Linked DNA regions of Homo sapiens: region 2 is linked to region 1. The links come from fine-mapping of genetic effects on gene expression. A gene starts in region 1. The other region holds a variant in brackets. All regions are shown on one strand. Distances are from middle to middle.

Evidence for each region. PIP is the estimated chance that this variant, and not a neighbour inherited with it, causes the effect.
Region 2: its variant is fine-mapped to the expression of GTF3C2 in whole blood (TOPMed, PIP above 0.99).

The regions. Positions count from the first base shown.
Region 1 is chr2:27,353,200-27,361,524 of GRCh38, reverse strand. GTF3C2 (general transcription factor IIIC subunit 2) reads left to right here and starts at 4,761. Exons shown (of 19, transcript NM_001035521.3): 1 at 4,761-4,786. GTF3C2-AS2 (GTF3C2 antisense RNA 2) reads right to left here and starts at 4,760. Exons shown (of 4, transcript NR_183827.1): 1 at 4,669-4,760; 2 at 3,623-3,717; 3 at 2,065-2,640. RefSeq lists enhancers at 1,260-2,001, 4,431-4,560, 4,140-4,753, 4,571-4,910, 4,961-5,240 and 1 more.
Region 2 is chr2:27,436,633-27,444,957 of GRCh38, reverse strand. NRBP1 (nuclear receptor binding protein 1) reads right to left here. Exons shown (of 18, transcript NM_013392.4): 8 at 8,122-8,205; 9 at 7,853-7,911; 10 at 7,598-7,696; 11 at 5,060-5,192; 12 at 4,450-4,555; 13 at 4,256-4,306; 14 at 4,018-4,153; 15 at 3,778-3,831; 16 at 3,628-3,691; 17 at 3,336-3,391; 18 at 2,699-3,250. The coding sequence ends at 3,146. KRTCAP3 (keratinocyte associated protein 3) reads right to left here and starts at 2,577. Exons shown (of 7, transcript NM_173853.4): 1 at 2,518-2,577; 2 at 2,195-2,379; 3 at 2,057-2,116; 4 at 1,678-1,884; 5 at 1,426-1,560; 6 at 897-1,009; 7 at 661-772. The coding sequence starts at 2,545. The coding sequence ends at 902. IFT172 (intraflagellar transport 172) reads left to right here. Exons shown (of 48, transcript NM_015662.3): 48 at 437-581. The coding sequence ends at 526. RefSeq lists an enhancer at 1,900-2,442. The variant C/T (reference allele first, on the strand shown) is at 4,499.

The DNA.
Region 1 (8,325 bases):
GCGACAGAGTGAGACTCTGTCTCAAACAAACAAACAAACAAACAAACAAAAAAAAAAAAAAAAGAGCAGTCTCCTATCCCCTTTTTACATTGACATTGGCTTACAGAAGCCATGTTGATTGTCATATGAAATGTTCTGCATTCTAGATTTGACTGTTTGCTTTCTTATGTTGTCATTTCACTCATTCCCTATGTCCTGTATTTCTTTTTTTTTTATTTGAGATGGAGTCTTGCTCTGTTGCCCAGGCTGGAGTGCAATGGCACGATTTCAGCTCACTGCAACCTCTGCCTCCCAGGTTCAAGTGATTCTCCTGCCTTAGCCTCCCGAGTAGCTGGGACTACAGGTGTGCGTCACCACATCCAGCTAATTTTCTTTTGTATTTTTAGTAGAGACAGGGTTTCACCACATTGGCCAGGCTGGTCTTGAACTCCTGACCTCAGATTATCCGCCCTCCTTGGCCTCCCAAAGTGCTGGGATTACAGGTGTGAGCCACCACGCCTGGCCCCTAAGTCCTGTATTCCTATTCAATTTTTTGGGCAAGAATGTTTAATAAGTGGTTCTGTGTGCTTTATATTGCCTCACATCAGGAGGCAAACAATGACTGGTGGTTTCATGTTCAGTGATGAGTGGGTCCAGGCATTTTAAAGCTTCCTAAAAGCTCTTTAGGGATTTCATCCACTGGTGATTGTTGCCTGAATTATTTCACTGGGACATGCAAAATAGTGATTTTTTTCTATCATTCTTTGCACAATTACTAGCTGTTAATCTATAAAAAAAAAAAAAAATCCCGGGCTGGGCAATGGCTCACACCCGTAATCCCAGCACGTTGGGAGGCTTAGGTGTGCGGATCACCTGAGGTCAGGAGTTCAAGACCAGCCTCGCCAACATGGTGAAACCCCGTCTCTACTAAAAAAATACAAAAATTAGCCGGGAGTGGTGGCGGGCGCCTGTAATCCCAGCTACTCAGGAGGCTGAGGCACAAGAATTGCTTGAACCTGGGAGGCAGAGGTTGCAGTGAGCCGAGATCGCGCCACTGCACTCCAGCCTGGGCGACAGAGTGAGACTCAGTCTCAAAAAACAAACAAAACCTTCCTCTCATCAGTTATTTTGAACTAGAGTTCATACTGGAAAGACAAGATAAATGCCTTACTCTTGCCTTTTTTTTTTTTTTGCCAATTTTCAGGAATTGGTCACTACTTTCTTTTTTTCTTTCTTTTTTTTTTTTTTTTTTAGAGCTTAATGAGTTTTTTTTATTTTTTTATTTTTTTATTTTTTAATTTATTTTTTTATTGCTAATTCTTGGGTGTTTCTCACAGAGGGGGATTTGGCAGGGTCATGGGACAACAGTGGAGGGAAGGTCAGCAGATAAACAAGTGAACAAAGGTCTCTGGTTTTCCTAGGCAGAGGACCCTGCGGCCTTCCGCAGTGTTTGTGTCCCTGATTACTTGAGATTAGGGATTGGTGATGACTCTTAACGAGCATGCTGCCTTCAAGCATCTGTTTAACAAAGCACATCTTGCACCGCCCTTAATCCATTTAACCCTGAGTGGACACAGCACATGTTTCAGAGAGCACAGGGTTGGGGGTAAGGTCACAGATCAACAGGATCCCAAGGCAGAAGAATTTTTCTTAGTGCAGAACAAAATGAAAAGTCTCCCATGTCTACTTCTTTCTACAGAGACACGGCAACCATCCGATTTCTCAATCTTTTCCCCACCTTTCCCGCCTTTCTATTCCACAAAGCCGCCATTGTCATCCTGGCCCGTTCTCAATGAGCTGTTGGGCACACCTCCCAGACGGGGTGGTGGCCGGGCAGAGGGGCTCCTCACTTCCCAGTAGGGGCGGCCGGGCAGAGGCGCCCCTCACCTCCCGGACGGGGCGGCTGGCCGGGCAGGGGGCTGACCCCCCCACCTCCCTCCCGGACGGGGCGGCTGGCCGGGCGGGGGGCTGACCCCCCACCTCCCTCCCGGACGGGGTGGCTGCCGGGCGGAGATGCTCCTCACTTCCCAGATGGGGTGGCTCCTCACTTCTCAGACGGGGCGGCCGGGCAGAGACGCTCCTCACCTCCCAGACGGGGTCGCGGCCGGGCAGAGGCGCTCCTCACATCCCAGATGGGGCGGCGGGGCAGAGGCGCTCCCCACATCTCAGACGATGGGCGGCCGGGCAGAGACGCTCCTCACTTCCTAGATGTGATGGCGGCTGGGAAGAGGCACTCCTCACTTCCTAGATGGGATGGCGGCCGGGCGGAGACGCTCCTCACTTTCCAGACTGGGCAGCCAGGCAGAGGGGCTCCTCACATCCCAGACGATGGGCGGCCAGGCAGAGACACTCCTCACTTCCCAGACGGGGTGGCGGCTGGGCAGAGGCTGCAATCTCGGCACTTTGGGAGGCCAAGGCAGGCGGCTGGGAGGTGTAGGTTGTAGCGAGCCGAGATCACGCCACTGCACTCCAGCCTGGGCACCATTGAGCACTGAGTGAACGAGACTCCGTCTGCAATCCCGGCACCTCGGGAGGCCGAGGCTGGCGGATCACTCGCGGTTAGGGGCTGGAGACCGGCCCGGCCAACACAGCGAAACCCCGTCTCCACCAAAACCAGTCAGGCGTGGCAGCGCGTGCCTGCAATCGCAGGCACTCGGCAGGCTGAGGCAGGAGAATCAGGCAGGGAGGTTGCAGTGAGCCGAGATGGCAGCAGTACAGTCCAGCTTCGGCTCCACATGAGAGGGAGACCATGGAAAGAGAGGGAGACCGTGGGTAGAGGTAGAGGTAGAGAGGTAGAGAGGTAGAGAGGTGGAGGTAGAGGTAGAGCAGTTTAATGGTCACTACTTTCAATGGTGTAGGATGAGTAGCTGATATTTTGGCTTTTACTTTTTTTAAAAGATCATTATCAATACATGGATTTCTATATTTTGAACATACTACTTAATCATCAAAATTAAGCAGAGGATCAACAGGGTTGCTTTATGCTTTAGAAAGATAACCGGGCCAGGCATGGCAACTCACACCTGTAATCCCAGCACTTTGGGAGGCATAGGCAGGAGGATCGCTTGCGCTCAGTAGTGTGAGACCTGCCTGGGCAATATAGCAAGACCTCATCTCTATTAAACAACAACAACAAAAAAACCTGGAAGTGGTGGTATACACCTGCCACACACCCCAACTATTCAGGAGGCTGAGGTGGCAGGTTGAGGCTGCAGTGAGCCGTGATTGCACCACTGTCCTCCAGCCTGGGTGACAGAGCAAGACCCTGTCTCAAAACAAACAAACAAACAAACAAACACCTAGTAGAAATTAGAGGCAGAGAAGTAGATCAGTGAAAAGATTGGTTATAAATCAAAATTACAAATGCACCTAAAACTTTGGTTCACAATTCCACTTCTAGAAATTATCCTACCCATATAGTTACACATTTGAAGTAATTTAGATGCAAGGTTACTTATAGCAGTGTGATTTATAATAGCAAGGGACCATTGTTTATAACAGCAAAACCATGTAAATATGCATCAATATCAACAAGGCACTAGTTATACCACATCCACCCAATTAAATGCTAACTAGTTATAGCACAGAATGAGAAAGGTTTTTGTGTACAGAAATGGAATAATGGCCAAACTCAGTGACTTACACCTGTGATCGCAGCACTATGGGAGGCTGAGGCAAGAGGATCACTTCAGGTCAGGTGTTCAAGACCAGCCTGGTCAACATAACGAGACCCCATCTCTAGAAAAAATTAAAAAATTAGGCCGGGCGCGGTGGCTCATGCCTGTAATCCCAGCACTTTGGGAGGCTGAGGCAGGCGTATCACAAGGTCAGGAGTTCGAGACCAGCCTGGCCAACATAGTGAAACCCCTTCTCTACTAAAAAGACAAAAATTATCCGGGCTTGGTGGCGGGCGCCTGTAATCTCAGCTACTCGGGAGGCTGAGGCAGGACAATTGCTTGAACCCGGGAGGCGGAGTTTGCAGTGAGCCGAGATCGCGCCACTGCACTCCAGCCTGGGGACAGAGCAAGACTCCATCTCAGGAAAAAATAAAAATAAAAATAAAAACGGGGTCTCACTATGTTGCCCAGGCTGGTATCGAATTCCTGGGCTCAAGTGATCCTCCCCCGCCTTGGCCTCCCAAAGTGCTGGGATTACAGACAGGAGCTACCATACCCAGCCAAAGTCATGCTTTTCTACTCCTACTCCTTCCCTTCCTTGTCCTCTTTCCAAGCTCTCTCGGGCCCATCCCTGACTTCACTACTGGCAGAATCCTCCAGCGGCCGGCGGCGAGGACTTCTTTGTCTCCCAGACTCCGCCTTGGGCTCGGACGCCGCCAGGGTTGCAGGTACAGACTCTCTGGTCTAGCTGGCTCTTCCGGCCACAGGCGCGGCAGTCCGGCCGGAAAGGCCGGATTCAGGGATCCAGAGCGCGAGCCCGGCCTGGGAGTCCGCCTACTCCCGGCTCCCGTCGAGGCCGCGTGGGATCCCGTTGGCCGCGCAGGCGTCGATCTCCCCTTTTTGACACTGCAACTCCCATGAGGCCCTGCAGCGTCCCTGGCGCCGCTGAAGACGCCCTGGAACTCGGCTGGCTTCGGAGGGCTCGGTGACTCTGGCCGCGCTGCATTATGGAATACAGAGTCTAAGAGAAAACTAGCCCGGCACCGACTCCGGACCAAGCACACGTGTTTACCTTGTGCACTGGGGTGGGGGCGTCAGTGAAGAGCAGCTAACAAGATTTCGTCATAAGACCGCGACCAGACAGGCGGCGCCATCTTCGAACTTAGACTTCCGGAAGGACTTTGGCGAGGGTGAGTGTATCGCCGCAGCGGGTGTGTGGGGGGCCCCACAATTACTCCTCCCCCTTCTTTTGCCATAGCACTAAGATATTGGGAACAAACTCCTGGCTCCGCTCTTCTCCCAGCCACAGCAGCGCGCCTTTCAGCGTCTGCGCTCCTACAGAGCACCATCATGCTCCGCACCTTCCCTACTGTGGCCACCGTGCACCCCCCATCTCTGCAAGCCTCGGGTCTTGCCCTCCTCCCCCACGCGGTGTCGGTAACGCGGAAGCCTGTGTCCGGGCGTAGGCGCTGCATACGTAGCGTCCCTCGAACTCGGCGAACCTACAGTAGTCCTTGTTAGAAAAACCAGGGCTCCTCTCCCGCACAGGCTAGGGGAGAAATCTACCTTCACGCCCAGGACTGAAGAAGGGCAGGTGATGGCCCCTAGAGTGGTTGTGGGTCAATCTCTTTCAGCTGTGTCCCAGCCTCTTCCTCGAGGAGGCTCTTTAACCCCGAGGGTTGTGCCCCGCGCGCTGCAACGCCATTGGCGTAACCAAGGGCCAGTTGTGTTTCCCTGTCTAGTCCTTTTGTCCCGTGGCAAGTTGGCTGCCTGTTGGGGAAGTCAGAGGTGGCGACTTCAACTCCGTCGGAGGCAACTCACTTTGTTGGAGGGATGTATAGGGTATGGACAAACCTCTTTGTTCCAGAGGCATATACAATTTTAAGTCAATCCCGTGCCATCACTATTTTTGCAATCTCTTATCAATTGTACTATTGTTTTCTGAATAGTTCTCTTTAAATTGACTTACTTAAAAAGTTTAAATGCATTAGTCTCGACCTAAGCAATATAAATGAAACCGTGGGTTTCATGGGCTACTTATAATTGTTTATGTAAGTTGAAATAAAAGCACTAGTCATTAAAATGTTCGTTTTCGTACCATTAAAATCATCTTGCATACCGCCAGTTGTACCCTAGGAACACTTTAGGAAACAATATATTAAGCTAAGCAGTGTATTCAAAGTAATTTCATACTTAAGGTGCAGTGTTGTGTCATTATTTTTTCTTGGCTGGGGAGGTCAAGCTGGCATCCTGGAGCAGCATGGGAACCAGACAGATTGGGGTGCAATGGAAGGTTTTAGAAACTCAGTACGAATTTACTGATCATCTATTCCTTTACTGTGTATCCAGAATTTGTACCATTACATCCTGCTGCTGCCTTCCATGAGAAGTGTATTTTTTTTTTTTTTGATACGGAGTTTTGTTCTTGTTGCCCAGGCTGGAGTGCAGTGGCGTGATCTCGGCTCACTGCAACCTCCGCCTCCCGGGTTCAAGCGATTCTCCTGCCTCAGCCTCCTGAGTAGCTGGAATTACAGGCGCGTGCCACCATGCCCGGCTACTTTTGTATTTTTAGTAGAGACGGGGTTTTACCATGTTGGTCAGGCTGGTCTCGAACTTGTGACCTCGTTATCCGCCCACCTCGGCCTCCTAAAGTGCTGGGATTACAGGCGTGAGCCACCGTGCCCGGCCAGGCAAATTATATGTACAGGCAATTCATAAAAGTCATATGGATGTCCAATATATAGAAAGAAGTTGCTGACACCAATTATTATCAGTGCAAATAAATAGAGTGGGGAAGAATTCTTTCACCTATCAGATTGGCGAAAATTAAAAAGATCAGTAACGGTATGATAAAATGGGTACTAATATACATAAATAGTTTTAATTTTGGTGAGCCGTTTGGTAGTATCAAATTTTGAAATGTGCATGTTCTTCAGTGTAGTACAGTAATTCCATGTTCAGATGATTATTCGAGAAAAATAATTTATTGATGAATTAATGAAGAGATTTGTACTAGAATATTTATTGCAGTATTTTTTGAAATAGTATTTTAACTCATTTGTTCATTAAATGAAGATTGTCTAAATAACTAATTCTATGGAATGCCATGCAGCAATTAGGAAGAATGAGATAAATATATGTATACTGATGTAGAAAATCCTTTAAAAAAAACCGGAATCTTCCTCTGTCACTCAGGCTGGAGTGCAGTGGCGTGATATCGGCTCACTGCAACCTCTCCCTCTGCCTCTTGGGTTCAAGTGATTCTCCTGTCTCAGCCTCCCGAGTAGATGGGATTACAGGCGCCTGCCACCACGCCGGGCTAATTTTTATATTTTTAGTAGAGATGGGGTTTCACCATGTTGGCCAGGCTAGTCTCCTGACCTCAAGTGATCCATCTGCCTTGGCCTCCCAAAGTGCTGGGATTACAGGCGTGAGTCACAGCACTTGGCCTAGAAAATCCTTAAGACTTGTATAGAAGCTCTCTTAACTGATTTCCATTTAGCTCCTTATGTTAACTGACATACTCTTATTTCCTCTCTAAATGCTTGAAGCTTGAAGGTTTTTCTCCTGTAGACGTGGTCAGTCTGCTTCCACTAGTTGAGTTGAATGCTTGCCAAGAGTCATTGTATTGGTTCCCACTTTTTTTGAGACAAGATCTTGCTCTGTCACCCAGGCTGGAGTCGAGTGGCATGATCACAGCTCACTGTAACCTTGAACTCCTGGGCTCAGGCGATCCTCCTGCCTCAGCCTCTCGAATAGCTAGAGCTACAGGTATTTGCCACCACACCCAGCTAATTAAACATTTTTGTTGTTGTTGTTGAGACAGGATTTTGTTATGTTGTCCAGGCTCCCACCCTTTTTTTTTTTTTTTTTAATGTTTTGCTTTGTCTTTATACATACGTTATAGGCTGGGTGTGGTGACTCAAACCTGTAATCCTAGCACTTTGGAAGTTGAAGCTAGAGGATCACTTGAGCCCAGGAATTTGAGACCAGTCTGAGTAAGATAGTTGAGACCCTGTCTCTACAAAAAAAATAAAAATTAGCTAGGCCTGCTGGTGTGTGCATGTGGTCCCAGTGACCTGAGAGGCTGAGATGGGGAGGAGCACTTGGGCCCAGGAGGTCAAGGTGCAGTGAGCCATGATCATCGCACTACTGCATTCCAGCCTGGGTGACAGGGGAAATAAATTTTAATATGAAAGAGTTATTGTTTCTATTAAAACTAAGTTGATTGGGAGGCCGAGGTGGGTGGATCACCTGAGGTTGGGAGTTTGAGACCAGCCTGGCCAACATGGTGAAATCCCATCTCTACTAAAAGTACAAAACTTAGCTGGGCATGGTGGCACATGCCTGTAATCCCAGCTACTCAGGAGGCTGAGGCAGAAGAATCACTTGAACCCCAGAGGCGGAGGCAGCGGTGAGCAGAGAGCATGCCCCTGCGCTCCAGCCTGGGAGACAGAGCGTGACTCTGTCTCAAAAAAACAAAAACAAAAAACTAAAAAACTAAGTTGAACCATAGATGGTTGTTTGCTCCTTTTTTTTTTTTTTTTGAGACGGAGTCTAGCTCTGTCGCCAGGCTGGAGTGCAGTGGTGCAATCTTGGCTCACTGCAACCTCCTGCAAGCAATTCTCCTGCCTCAGCCTCCTGAGTAGCTGGGATTACAGGGGTGTGCCGCCACACCCAGCTAATTTTTGTATTTTTAGTAGAAACGAGGTTTCACCATGTTGGCCAG
Region 2 (8,325 bases), 83 kb before region 1:
AAAAAACAAGTCTGGGTGCAGTGGCTCATACCTTTAATCCCAGCACTTTGGGAGGCCAAGGTGGGCGGATCACCTGAGGTCAGGAGTTTGAGACCAGCCTGGCCAACATGGTTAAAACCTCGTCTCTACTAAAAATACAAAAGTTAGCCGGGTCTGGTGGCGTGCACCTGTAATCCCAGCTACTCAGGAGGCTGAGGCAGGAGAATCGCTTAAACCCGAGAGGCAGAGGTTGCAGTGAGCTGAGATTGTGCCACTGCACTCCAGCCTGGGCGACAAAGCAAGACTTTGTCTCAAAACAAACAAAAAACCCACATACACACTAGAAAGATGGGTGGGATTACAGGAAGGCAGATGCAGACCCTGAAGCCTGCGATGGAGCTGATTTTGTATTTCCAGCATTAACAAGTTCCTCTCATGTTCTTCCATTTGCTCACAGACCTCCCACAGCCCAGTGTGCCAGGACGTGCTGAAATTCATCAGTCAGTGGTGTGGAGGGCTCCCCAGCACCAGCTTTTCCTTTCAGTAGTTGGTAGAGCTGAGGAAGAGTTAGGGCCTCTCCCTCATTAAAGTTTTATAAATAATTGAGACCACTGTATTCTTTGATCAAAGTCATTCCCAACACCACACAGTGCCTTTTCCCCAAAAGGAATCATAATCAAGTAGAAGAAAAGAGAAGTTACTTTATTACAATTTGTTATCTCATCCCGAGGTCAGGGCCCCTTGCTTAGTGGGAAAAAAAACCCTTTAGGACTGAGTCTCGGAACAGCACCTGCTGGACAGAGGGGAGAACCAACCCAGGTCAGAGGGGAAAGCAGCATGGCAAGACCTAGACCCAGTTCTAAGAGCACTTCCTTGTCCCCGCTCTTACCCGGGCCACCACCTTCAAGGCCCATTACCTGTCCTAAACCCAACTTCTCTGTGATGCCCGGATTTCTTGATTTTGATCCAGTAGCTGCTCATTTTCCTGCCTTTTACATTTAGGAGATTCAAGCTCTGTCATTTCCTCTAGCTGCAGAAGAAGATAGAGTTAGACACCCTCGCCCTGAATGATAGGTCAGCATCTTTTTTTTGTTTTGTTTTTTGTGACGGAGCCTCACTCTGTTGCCCAGGCTGGAGTGCAGTGGCGTGATCTCGGTTCACTGCAACCTCCGCCTTCCGGGTTCAAGCGATTCTCCTGCCTCAGCCTTCCAAGTAGCTGGGATTACAGGCGCCCACCACCCCACCTAATTTTTTGTATTTTTAGTAGAGACGAGGTTTCACCATGTTGTCCAAGCTGGTCTCAAACTCCTGACCTCAAGTGATCCGCCTGCCTCAGCCTCCCAAAGTGCTGGGATTACAGGTGTGAGCCTCCGCACCCGGCCGGTCAGCATCTTTTCAACACAGCCAGTCTCTGTGGAATGAACCCTTCCTGTTTGCCTTCCTTACCTGCCCCTGAAGTCCGTCCTTCCTGCAGGGCCCAACTCCACGTAGAGTGAGTGCAGCCACACAGCAGTAACCAGATAGAGCAGCCTCCCCTGCAGACATGAGCAAAGAAGGGATCCAGAGAGCCAAGGCTGTATCCTGAAAAGCAAGAAGGATGGGGAGTAGGAGGGAGTAGGGCAAGTGCAGCAAATAGGGGAAATTAAAAGGGCAGGACCAAGGCTTTGTAGACCACAAGAAGGAAGAGAATGTGCTCACATAGATTCTTGTGGGGTCAAAGGGGCAGTCAGTATGTCCCGGCCCCTCATCCAGTGGTACCAGAGGATCCAGCAGTCCTGGGTGGCAGTCAGCAATAAGGCGGCGGCCACCGTTGGCCACAGTGAGTGACACAGCAAGAAGGAGGCCCAGGGAGCAGGCAACGGACAAGAGCAGGTTCACCAGAGCTAGTGCCAGCAGGACCCAGTGCTGGCAGGGACAGGAGATCAGGGTGAGCAGCCTGGGCCTGGCTAACTCTCCCAGTGACTAGACACCCAGTTTCTCTGAGGCTCCTCCAATCTATTGAAAGACCAAGCTCAGTCAGCCCCCATTTCCCTGACTCAAGCCTACTCGTTAAAAGCTCCAGGGAAGTCCCTCTCACCAGTGGAGGGCGAAGAAGGTTCCTGGACGCCAGGAGGGCCACAAGTCCCACGGAAACGCTCTGTGGAAGACACAAAGCCTTTGGCCTGCTGGGCTCTCCGGGAGCCCGGCCCCCGCCCGGGTCGCCTGCCGCGCTCACCAGCAGCCCCGAGCCGACAGAGATGACATTGGCTACGGTGTACTCCGGCGTGACAGCGCCGCGGGGATTGGCCACGTGCCGCAGGACGGTGCCATGCAGCACGGCCCCCAGCAGCAGGTTCACGTGGCCCACCAAGATCAGCGCGAGGCCCACACGCATCAGCCGCCTGGGCCCCCGGGCGGCGTCTGCAAAGCACGGGGGAGGGCAGGGTTGAGTCGGGCGGGGAGGGGAGAGGCGGCTCGCGGCGGGTTAACCGCGGGCAGTAGGACGGGGCAAGGGTAGCCCCAGGGTAAGGAGACGAGACGCCAGGGCCCGGAAGTTACCGAAAGCGCAGAGACTGCAGCGCCTCATCCCGTCCGCCGCGCCAGCCGCAGGGCCGCTGTACCTGGGCCCGGCCCCGCCCCAACCTGGGCCCCGCCTCCGTCCCGGGTCCCCCTCCCACCTGGGCCCCGCCTCCGCCCCGGGCCCGCTCCCCCTGGCGGGAAAGGCGCGAACACACGACGCTTTTAGCAAAAAGTAGACTTTTATTACAGCAGCAACTGAGGCGAATCGAATGGCCCCCCAGGGCCACCACTGCAGCACCACCTTTCTCTCCCGCCCCGGCCGCCCCAGCGGGATTGTAGAATTCGGCTCCCCTAGTGCCCGTGGGCCTCCTTTCCACACAGGCTGGGCGGGAGCCGGCAGATCAGCGACTAGCCCCCAACTAGAAGGCGGCTGCTGAGAAGGCCCAGGCCCACGTCTGTGCAAAACAAGTAAACAAAGTGCAGAGGGGAGGAAGAGAGGGGAGGGGAAAGGATGATGCTCAGAACCAGGGAGCCCCCCCAGCCCTCCTGAATAATAAAGGAGGGAAGGGGCTTCACAGGGTAATACTGACTGGGGGGAAGGGACAGGAGGGCTGCAGCACGTCCAGGGACAGCCACAGCGCAGATCAGGGCCTGGCCCGAGTGAGCTCTAAGAGGAGACGGTGACAGCGGCTGAGTTGAGGGTACTGTTCCTGGCAAAATTGAACTTGTTCAAGGTCTCTTCTAGCAGAGAAGTCAACCGGCTCTGGTCAGCCTGGGGGAGAAGAGCTCAGTAAGATGGGGGCTGAGAGAAGAGAAGGCATGGGGGCAGCCAGGGCAGATGAAGGCAGAAACCTCACCTCACTAATGAAGCCCAGCTGCACCAGCTCAGCCGCCAACTCGGGGATATTCTCATCTGACAAAGAAACAGGAGGGGGTGAGTACAGTACGGGACTGAGGGACCTGGGGCCCTTCAGACAGCCCCACTAGGGCTAAACTGTCAGTCAGATCCACCCACTGCTTTAGGGTCTAAGATAGTCATTCTATGTGAGTCAATGTGTTACTGCCTTGTCACCTCCCCCACCCCTGAATATGTCCCTAAAAGATAAGGCTCATAGACTCTCCATCCTCTGAGGGAAAGGAGAGACTCACTTGGCATCAGGTCACAGCTCAGGTGCCGGTTCAGTTTGTCCTCCAACTTCAGCAGAAGTGTCAGCTGGAGAATAGGACAGTCAGAAAATGAGACTTTTCTTCCCTACCCTCTGGCTACTAGCCCTGCGCAACCCTAGCCCTGAGCCTTACGTGGTGTTTGACTCCCTCCTCCACCGACTCAATGTTGCACTGCATCAGCACCACCTAGGGAGGGAAGAGAGGGTCACTCTAGAGACCTGTCCATAAAAAACCCAATACCTAGACGTCTTTCGAGCCCATAGGGCATGGCTGCTAGGGAGCATTTTCTCTAAAGGATAGAGCCTTATTTGAGATGTCCTCTCTCCCTTCCACCACAACCATGGAGACAATCCACACCCACACAGCCCCCACCTTGCGAGTCTCCACCTCAGCTGGTTCAGGTGTCGGAGTCTTGACAGAGGGGGGCACGACAGGTGATGTCACCTCCTCCTGCTGTGGCTGCTGGGGCCGAGGCAGCCCAAAGGCTGTCAGAGGATAGATCCCATTCCTGGAGGGAGATGAAGACAGGTCACATGGGCTCTGTGAACGCCTTAGGATACCCAACCCCGCCTGCTTCCTCAAGAAAGCCTGCTTCTCACTCTGCTCTCACCTGACATCTTCAAGGAATTTATCTAATTCCAGAGCTGGTGACTGAGAGTACCTGGACGAGAAAAGAGAAAGGAGATGGAAGGAAAGAAACAAGCAAAATAGCAAATTCAAGCATTCCCAGAGAATGGACAGTTTACAGAGCCTCAAGAGTGGTCGTGACCAATCTGCCCCTTTCAGACCCTCTCAGTTACTCACAAAGTCTGAACTGGTTCTCTTCCTGGTCCTGCAGGGATTTCAGCCAGTA[C/T]GGCACTAGTATCCATGTTTTTGGTGATCTCCTCTAGAGCGTTCTCTGGGATCATGTCTGGAGGGCATGATGGAGTGGGATATTATGAAGGGATAGTCAGATTAAATGTCAAAGAAGGCATGCAGGCAAAGGGGTAAAGAATCCCTTTGGAGGCCTGGCACAGTGGCTCATGCCTGTAATCCCAGCACTTTGGGAAGCCGAGGCGGACAGATCACTTGACGCCAGTTCAAGACCAGCCTGGCCAACATGGCGAAACCCCATCTCTACTAAAAGTACAAAAATTACCCAGGCATGGTGGCACATGCCTGTAATCCCAGCTCTTCGGGAGGCTAAGGCACAAGAATCGCTTGAGCCTGGGAGCTGGAGGTTGCAATGAGCTGAGATCAAGCCATTGCACTCCAGCCTGAGAGAGAGTGAGACTCTGTCTCAAAAAAAAAAAAAAAAAAAAAAAAAAAAAAAAAAAAGAATCCCTTTGGAAATAAAGAGGAAAACAAGCATGCCAGTGATAGTTACAGGGCTCCAGATTGGAAGACTATTCCCCATAGGGCCAAGACGACTCACGTTGGTGTCCCACAATGCAGTGGGCCGCAAGGAGTTTGAGCGAGGGCACTTCAAACAATGCTGGGTGGAACAGAAGTTCTCTGGCTGTTGGTCTGCGAGCAGGCTCAGACTGCAGGCACTTTTGAATGAACTCCTAGAAAAGGAAACAAGGAACTGGAGCAGGCATCTGGCAAGCCCCCAGTGTGTTCATCTTTATAGCTCTCATTCTACTTAGCACAAGGCTTTGTACATAGTAGGTGCTCAGCACTTGCTGAGAAAACAATATATTGAAAAATGCACCTGAAAGGGCTTCAAAAACTGTAAGATATTATATGAAAGATACCATCCACTGCCTTTCTGGTTTTAATTATTTTTCTGCTCTCCAACCACAAGCTTTCTTTTTTAATGTTCACAATTTTTTTTTTTTTTTTTTTTGAGACGGAGTCTCGCTCTGTCGCCCAGGCTGGAGTGCAGTGGCGCAATCTCAGCTCACTGCAACCTCTGCCTACCGGGTTCACGCCATTCTCCTGCCTCAGCCTCCCGAGTAGCTGGGACTACAGGTGCCCACCACCATGCCCGGCTAATTTTTTGTATTTTCAGTAGAGACGGTTTCACCATGTTAGCCAGGATGGTCTCAATCTCCTGACCTCGTGATCCACCCGCCTCAGCCTCCCAAAGTGCCGGTATTACAGGCATGAGACACCGCGCCCGGCCCCACACTTTCTTTTTCCTTAGTTTCTACCTCTCTGCTTTATTAGTCAACTCACTGCCTATCTTCTTTTCTAAATCTTGCCAAATTTAGCTTCTCTCTTCCCAAACTTACCCAATGTGATCAATATTCACCATTTTTTTATTTCACAAGCCTAGTATCACAATTTCCTTTGCCCACAATCACTGAATTCACCGAATTTCCCAGGATTCCTCTAACGATTCTGCCTTATTTTCTTTCTTTCTTTTTTCTGAGACAGGGTCTTGCTGTGCCAACCAGGCTGGAGTACAGTGGCACAATCACAGCTCACTGCTGCCTCAACCTCCTGGGCTCAAGCAATCCTCCCACTTCAGCTTCCAGAGTAGCTGGGACCACAGGCATGTGCCACCATACCCAGATAATTTTTATTTTTTCATAGAGATAGGGTTTTACCACGTTGCCCAGGCTAGTCTCGAACTCCTGAGCTCAAGTGATCCTCCCACCTCAGCCTCCAAAAGTGCTGGGATTAAAAGTATGAGCCACCATGTTCCACCACCGCCTCCTTTTCTACCTCCTGCATGTCCCATGACAATTAACCTGCTTTCCTGCTTTTAACCTTGAAGGCTAACAAGGTCACATACCTAATCTTTCACTTGAATACTCCACCTCAATGTTGAAGTAGAAACTTACTCCACACTATCCTCCTGACTTCCCACTAGTCTTCTTTTCTCTCCTGTTCCCTACTATACTTATCTAATGAGTTACAAACTGTTCTTGTTTGGACCTTCCTGCCCAGGCTCTGCTTACTATAGTCTATCAACTGATTCATAACCTTATGTCTTTTAAATCTTAGCTCATTATTTCAGGCCACCGTCCCTAACTAAAACTGTATAAATATAAAATCCCAAACAACTGGTTTAATTTAAATTGACTGATGTGCTTAAAAATATAAAAATGGCTGTCTGAGAGTATACAGCAATGGCCTGAAGTAACCATCAAATTAATTTACCTCCATGTAGACACATTCAAATTAACATACTTTTTTTTTTTTTTTGAGACAGTCTCGCTCTCTTGCCCCAGCTGGAGTGCAGTGGCCCAATCTCAGCTCACTGCAATCTCCGCCTCCCGGGTTCAAGCTTGCCTCAGCCTCCCGAGTAGGTGAGACTACAGGCACACACCACCATGCCCAGCTAATTTTTGTATTTTTAGTAGAGACAGGGTTTCACCATGTTGGCCAGGCTGGTCTCAAACTCCTGACCTCAAGTGATCCACCCGCCTCAGCCTCTCAAAGTGCTGGGATTACAGGTGTGAGCCACTGCACCCAGCCAACACACAACTTTTTTTTTTTTCTTTTTTTCTGAGACGGAGTCTACCTGTGTCGCCCAGGCTGGAGTGCAGTGGCGCGATCTCAGCTCACTGCAAGCTTTGCCTCCCGGGTTCATGCCATTCTCCTGCCTCAGCCTCCTGAGTAGCTGGGACTACAGGCTCCCGCCACCAAGCCTGGCTAATTTTTTTTGTATTTTTAGTAGAGACAGGGTTTCACCATGTTAGCCAGGATGGTCTCGATCCCCTGACCTCGTGATCCGCCCGCCTCGGCCTCCCAAAGTGCTGGGATTACAGGCGTGAGCCACCATGCCCGGCTTCCAACACACAACTTTTAACCCCAGCATCATCCATCTTAACCCCCTTACCTGTGTGTTTCTATGCAAAAACATGGTAGGCACCTCCTAAGAAAATGTTTATAGATTTTTCGTGTCCTTTCTGTTATGTTCCCTAGCTCTTAGGAGCATATACCCAGTGGGTACAAAGGAAGAAAAACCAGAAGACATTTGAAGGTCAGTTGAGGAGGGAGTGATCCTGAAGATCCTTACCCTCTGTAATGGGTCTTCTAGAAGCTGGATGGCACTGCTGATGGCTTCCTGTGGCACATATGAGGACTCTCCATTGCCCTGAATCTCCAGCACTGCCATCTTCAGTGAGGAAGAATAAAAAAAAAAGTAGACACCTAAGAACTTCAGTGCTCCCACAATCACTCCCTCCAAGCCAGCGCCTTACTTGTCTTCCCTCCATTCCCAATTCCATCTTCTCATCTGACCCCTTTCCCCCCTCCCCTCCAGTCCCCTCACCTCCAGTGCACACATGCCAAAGGAGTAGATGTCCACTGCTGTTGTCACATTAGTGACTTCTAGGGAAAACAGAGAAGGCTTTGGTTAATCAGAGGATTGGGGGCTAGGGTTGGCAGGAATGCCTTAGGAAAAAAAAAAAAGAAAAGAAAAATATTTTGTATGCTGGTAGAGAAGGCCTAGAAGTTTCAGTTATATTGCCTCTGTACCTCAAGTTATAAGGTGCAAAAGCAGGGGGATGAGGACAGGGCAGAGAAAGCAGGAAGGCTCACCTCCATACTCTGGTGCAAAGAAGTGTAGATTCTTCTGCTCTTCTCGACAAGTCTTCACATGATTGTTGATAGTGTCAGGAGCCACTGGGAGTAGGGGAGACACCCACAATCTGACCATCATCAATGAAGAATAGTCTCACTCCAGAGAGAGGCCCCAAAAGCCAAATTCTCTCCTGAAGTCTCCTTTCTGATGACCCTCAACAG